Linked DNA regions of Homo sapiens: region 1 is linked to region 2. The links come from fine-mapping of genetic effects on gene expression. A gene starts in region 2. The other region holds a variant in brackets. All regions are shown on one strand. Distances are from middle to middle.

Region 1 (2,910 bases), 66 kb after region 2:
ATAACAAAAGTAAACTATAAACCACCATCCATTTAAAAGAGGAGAATTATGATCCAAGACTAATGAAATGAGCATTAATATATGTACACATTGATGACACAAAAGGCCTTAATGAATTACTAAATACTCATCTGGTTTTATTATGTATAACAATTATAGCAGCTCGGTCTCAAAAAAACAACAACAAAAAAATGTTTAATGATGATGGTGTTCTTTCCCACTGAAAGCATTCCTTCTCTAAAGTAAGTGGCGACCCTATTCTCCCACCCTTCACCCTTCATAGCCTCCTAAGTTATAAAGTGTGATCATGGCATCAGTGGGGTTCCCAGGAGATACCTGGTGTTCAGTCTTTCTCAGCCTTCACTCCCGGGAAGTGACAGTGTTTGACATCTATTAGAGCACATCACGCTTCAGATGATGATGATAAAAATGATCAGATTACATTTTTAGATGTTACCTCTTCAGGTAAAATATATATTATAAAACCAAAGATCCAAATGGGCCATGGTCAGACCATATATAAAAACAGAACTGTGACCATAACCTGCCCAGGAAACCAGCCCCTTATCTACAATAAACAGTCCAGCAAGCCCGTCTGCTAAAGCCAGACTTGCAAGAAGTCTGGGAAATAACAATCTGAGAAGCTAAACAATAACTTTTATAATAATTAATTCCAAATGACCAGGAATTGATTAATAACTGACAGCTTTCCTAGTTTTTGTCCTCATTTCCAACTTTAGGCCAACCACAAAAGGCGCCTTAAATAATCACATGGCTGCCGGCTCCCAGTTAGCTAACTCCAGCTTCCCAGACCAACAGCCTCCAATCAGGGCACACCTGAAGCTGTCCCTTGTGTCTGCTGTAAAGCTCTCCCACTCCCCTGCCTGCCTTTGAGTCTCTCCCAAATGCCAGTGATGGTGGCTGACTCCCTCGCTATAGCAAGCTCTGAATAAACAGCCTTTGCTTTCTCACATGGTGGTCTTCCTTCATTTCATATATATAAGCGGTGTGTGTATTTTTTTAATGCTGCCCACCTGCTTCCCGATCACTCCTCCCTGTCACAAGACCTGAAAAGCCTTCTCAACCAACAGGTGGAGGCCTGGCCTAACTCTTCCCCTTCACCCTCCCCTCCTCACACTTCTAATGACACAGATTTTCTCCTTGACCAAATGCTAGCCAGGCCTCTCTGAGCCCCCTTCTAGACCAGGCCTCAACCCCCTCAGAGTGCCTGCTTGAGAAAGCCCAAGACTGACAAAAGAATTCTATGCACCATCTGATGAAAGGCTTCTGGCACTTTCTTAGAGTACTTACTAAAAAGG[G/A]CTTACAATTGTGACTCCTTCCTCTGTGCCTTTGAGATGGCTGTGTATCTCCTACAAAGGCAATCAAGGACGTAAAAAACCATTCCTTTACAATGTAATCATCAGGAAGGATAGGGCCAGTGTCTCCCAGTCTCTGGAAGGACAGAATCCAGACTTTGATCATTGCCAGCTAGCAGACACAGCTGCCTAATCAGCATTTACATGCGTCAATCCTTTGTCAGTTTTCACCTTCCTGACTCTGCTGAAGCCCCACTGGTTCCTCTCCGTTAATCCCTCATTGTCCCTTAAAATGCCCAGTCACCTCTGTACAAATCAAAGTTCAGTTCACGCTGGACCCTCTTCCCTATTGCAATAGTACATTATGATTACCATCTGTCCTTACCACGTTACCTAGTGTCTGGTTTATCTTTGGTACTAACCAGGTGTGCGCCTCCATCCTTCCCCCACCCACACCAATAGCCAGTAGCTGGTCTTCCTGTTACAGTAGGGAGCTAGTCAGGCATGAGCACAGCAGGAGAGCCCCCCTCCCCACCAAGGAATGTCAGGAGACCAACAGGTGGTGGGCAAGTGGTTGTTACACTGTTTCCCTAAAACGGTAATTGGTCGCAGCCAGCCCTAGGGAAAGGCAGGCTCCAAACAGAAAAAACCTGAAACTGGTCATCATCAGTTTCCTGATAAGATCTTAGGAGTTGGGCGAGTAAGCTGAAGCATGCGCACTAAGAGGCAAAATGGCAGCATTTAACTGGTACATGACCTTCTAGGAACATTCAGCTGGTAAAGGAAGAATGCCTCAAGTGAGCATGGGTACAACGCCAGTAAACACACTGTGCATGCTTCCCTCCCAAGCACTAGCAGGCCACTGTGCATGCGACAGCCCACCCCAAGGGAAGAACTAGGGAAGAAGGGATGCAAGACCCCAGAAATGCCAGTGTATAAAACCCTAAGTCAGAGGTCAAACAGGGCTCTTGATCTCTCAATTTGCCCGCTTAGCCCTCTTCCAAGTGTACTTTACTTCCTTTCATTCCTGCTTCTAAACTTTTTTTTTTTAAGAGACAGTCTCACTCTGTTGCCCAGGCTGGAGCGCAGTGGCATAATCTCAGCTCACTGCAACTTCCACCTCCCCTGTTCAACGGATTCTCCTGCCTCAGCCTCCCGAGTAGCTGGGATTACAGGCTTGTACCACCACGCCCAGCTCATTTTTGTATTTTTAGTAGAGATGGGGTTTCACCATGTTGGCCAGGCTGGTCTCAAACTTCTGACCTCAAGTGATCCGCCCACCTCGGCCTGCCAAAGTGCTGGGATTACAGGCATGAGCCACCGTGCCTGACCCTGCTCTAAACTTTTTAAAAACTTTCACTCCCGCTGTAAAACTTGTGTTCATCTCTCACTCTGCCTTATGCCCTTCAGTCGAATTCTTTCTTCTGAGGAGGCAAGAATTGAGGTTGCTGCAGACCCGCATAGATTCACCATCACTAACATTACCTTGGGCAGAGTGCTCAGACCTCAGGTTGTCTGAAATGAAAGTCACTATCACCCCAGAACCTGCATCCTTTCCCTACTCTTTAGAAATGTGATAGCTGGTGGCACTCCT
Region 2 (2,910 bases):
TCACTTGAACCCGGGAGATGGAGGTTGCAGTGAGCTGAGATAGCACCATTGCACTCCAGCCACGGTGACAAAGCGAGACTCCATCTCCAAAAAAAAGAGAGAGAGAGAGATCTGTTCAAATCATGAGAAATGCTGAGACCAGAACACCTGCCTTTGACTCCTGTCTTCCGAATGCCAAGCTTCACCCATCCCTTTTCAACAAGTGCAAACCCATTTCAGGAGAGGGCACCGAATCCATCTTGAAAGGACTTGCTCCGAGTTTCAAAGCTGACGCTTTTAAGCTCTTAAATTCCCCTTCCAACAAACAAGCCAATAGTATGTTGGCATGCATTCATATAAGCAGGCTTGGCCCACGCCATATTTATTTAGTCTTCATAACTAGATGTACTAGAGGGTGTGAAGAATAAACCAGCACATCAGCCTTATTGAATATGCTTCCGACCAAAACCATCATTGGTTTGCCTTTCAAAGCCTAATCTAAGAGTCTCTGTCAAGAGTCTCATCTCTTCCTTAGAAGGAGCTCTTTCCCCAGCTCTGGCCCTCCCCACCAAGCTTGGAGCATGGGCCTCACCTGTGCACTTGCAGGTCCGGTGGAAGAATTTTCTTGGCCACAGCTCACGGTCATCCTGGTTTCGTAGGATGTAGGGACCACTCCAGGGCCTTGTGTCGGCTCGCACCTCTGTGCACTGCCCCCGGCCTTGCTGAGAGCCACAGACATTGGCCGACTCTGCACCCAGGCGTGGGCAGCACTCCTTGTTCACTAGGCTGTCCACCGTCATGCAGACTCGGGGGAACTGACCCTGGGCTCCTGGCAGGATTTTGCAGCCCAAGCAACTGAGCAGAAACCCCCACCAAAGGGGGCTCATGGCTTTATAATTGGGAGAGCTCTCTCTCTCTCTTACTTTCCTTGTCTCTGTCGTACTTTTCTCCTTATCTTCTACTCTTTCAGTCTTTTCTTTTCAGTATTTTTTATTTTTCTTTGCTTTCTATTCCTTTCTTCTTAAAAAAATACCCACAAGAATCACAGAGGTTACATGTGTGCACATGTGTACATGAACGTGCACACACAATTTTATGTGATTCAAACAACTAACAGACTTAATTTCCTTAGAAGCGCCTCTAACAACCAAATTTAATGAGGGTAGCGCTTCTCACCATCTTCCCCCGTTAAGTCAGGCTTTGTCTAATTGAGTTAATTTACAGAGCACCCAGTCATACTACTTATTATGCTGGTATTTCTAAACCCTCTCCCTCCCTCCTTAGCTCTTGACTTTAATTGCCTTGAACTCAGTTCAAAAGCCAAACACCGTGCTGCTTTTATTCTCTCTGGCTTGCCAAGCCACGGGGCCTTGGGGGCTTGTGTAAGGGCTGGGAGAAGCCTTCATTAGGGGGATTAGTATTACAGAAACCCTCATCATTAGCACATGACCCAAAGTGCACAATAAAGGAGATCACTTCTGGCTTTATTTCAGGAGGGCAAAACCATCTTCTTTATCTGGGCTCATGTGCTCCAGCCAAACTTGTGACCTCAGACATCCTGGGGAGTCAGTAGATGCAGTGAGCTCTTCGTCAAAGACCCTTTACACAGAAGCTCACATTGCCAACTACAATGCACTCATGGCTGCTTTCTGACATGTGTGCAAAAAAGACCACAACAGGGGGTCATGCAACTTCAAAAATAAAGAAACATTTATGTAGAACCAGGGTACAAGGAATTGCTTTGTTCCACAATTGGGAATCCTCTTCCCTCCAAATAATAACTTACTCTTCTCCTATTCAGCACATCTACGCAGCAATTTTTTTTTAATTACATGAAGTAGCATGCCACCAGAAACTCACAATTGTCATTATCTGATTGTATGGAAGGCACTGGAACCATTTGGAATGAAGGCTTGCAAGCAAATCTTTTTGATTAGACTAAAGTGAAGCATGACTGAGCTTCAGTCTAGAAAGCAATGCCTCCTGGTGCTTCTGGAGAATGGTCAGGTCAGCAATGGTGGCCACCTGTCAGAACATCCATTTATTTTTTCACAGTGGAAACAGGACTGTCTTGGTAACTGTTTCACAGTGGAAACAGGACTTAGTGCCACAAGGATGCGAAACGGCTTCAGCTAGTTTCTAAGAATATACTTGAATGTAAAGACACATATTGTTATGTTTCAAAGCAAATTCCTAAGGTGAAACAATTATATAGGTATTCCCACCCCCTGTACCTCTGTGCCACCCCTTGATGTTAAGTTGTTGTGACTAATTAAATGGCAATTCTTATGTCTGACTCTACACCAATATCAGCCTGTACCACAGCCCTACTGAATCAGAATCTCTGAGGATGTTCCAGACACCAACCAACCTTTGTTAGAAAACATCTAGGCAATTCTAATGCTCAGCCAGAGTTGAGAATCACTGAATCAGAATACAGCAGAGCTCCAAAGGAAATATTGCATCAGCATCAGCTAAAAGAGACCATGTGCAATAGTTTCCTGAGGCTTCTGTAACAAATGACCACAAACTGGATGACTGAAAACAACAGAAATCTATTTTCTCACTGTTCTGAAGGCCAGAAGTCTAAAATGAAGGTGTTGGCAGGACTGGCGTGTGTCAGCCAGGCGGCTGCACTCTCCCTGGAGACTCTAGGCTAGAATCCTCCTTGCCTTTTCAAGCTTCTGGCAGCTGCTGTCAATCCTTGGCTTGAAACCGCAGCTCCAATGTCTGCCACAGCCCCATGGCCTTCTCCCCATCTGTCTGTGTTTTTCCTCCATGTCTGTTTCTTATAAGGACACTTATTGGATGTAGAGCCCACTCAGATAATCCAGGATGATCTCATCTCAAGATTCTTCACTCAATTACATCTGCAAAGAAGACTCTTTTTTCCAGACAAAGTCACATTCACAGGTTCTGAGACATGGACAT

Which allele goes with the higher level. Alleles are on the strand shown, and positions count from the first base shown. SD is a standard deviation of normalised expression in the study named.
For the expression in hypothalamus of the gene that starts at base 1,293 in region 2, A is the high allele of the variant in region 1 and G is the other (moderate effect, 0.73 SD a copy in GTEx).

The links. PIP is the estimated chance that this variant, and not a neighbour inherited with it, causes the effect. A credible set is the group of variants that fine-mapping cannot tell apart.
Region 1: its variant is the best candidate, but not a certain one, in a credible set for the expression of DCT in hypothalamus (GTEx, PIP 0.65).

The regions. Positions count from the first base shown.
Region 1 is chr13:94,544,769-94,547,678 of GRCh38, forward strand. It overlaps a transcript of DCT not described here. Among named protein-coding and RNA genes, the nearest start is that of TRF-GAA1-5, 3.5 kb to the right of the region's middle. The variant G/A (reference allele first, on the strand shown) is at 1,320.
Region 2 is chr13:94,478,390-94,481,299 of GRCh38, forward strand. DCT (dopachrome tautomerase) reads right to left here and starts at 1,293. Exons shown (of 8, transcript NM_001922.5): 1 at 572-1,293. The coding sequence starts at 866.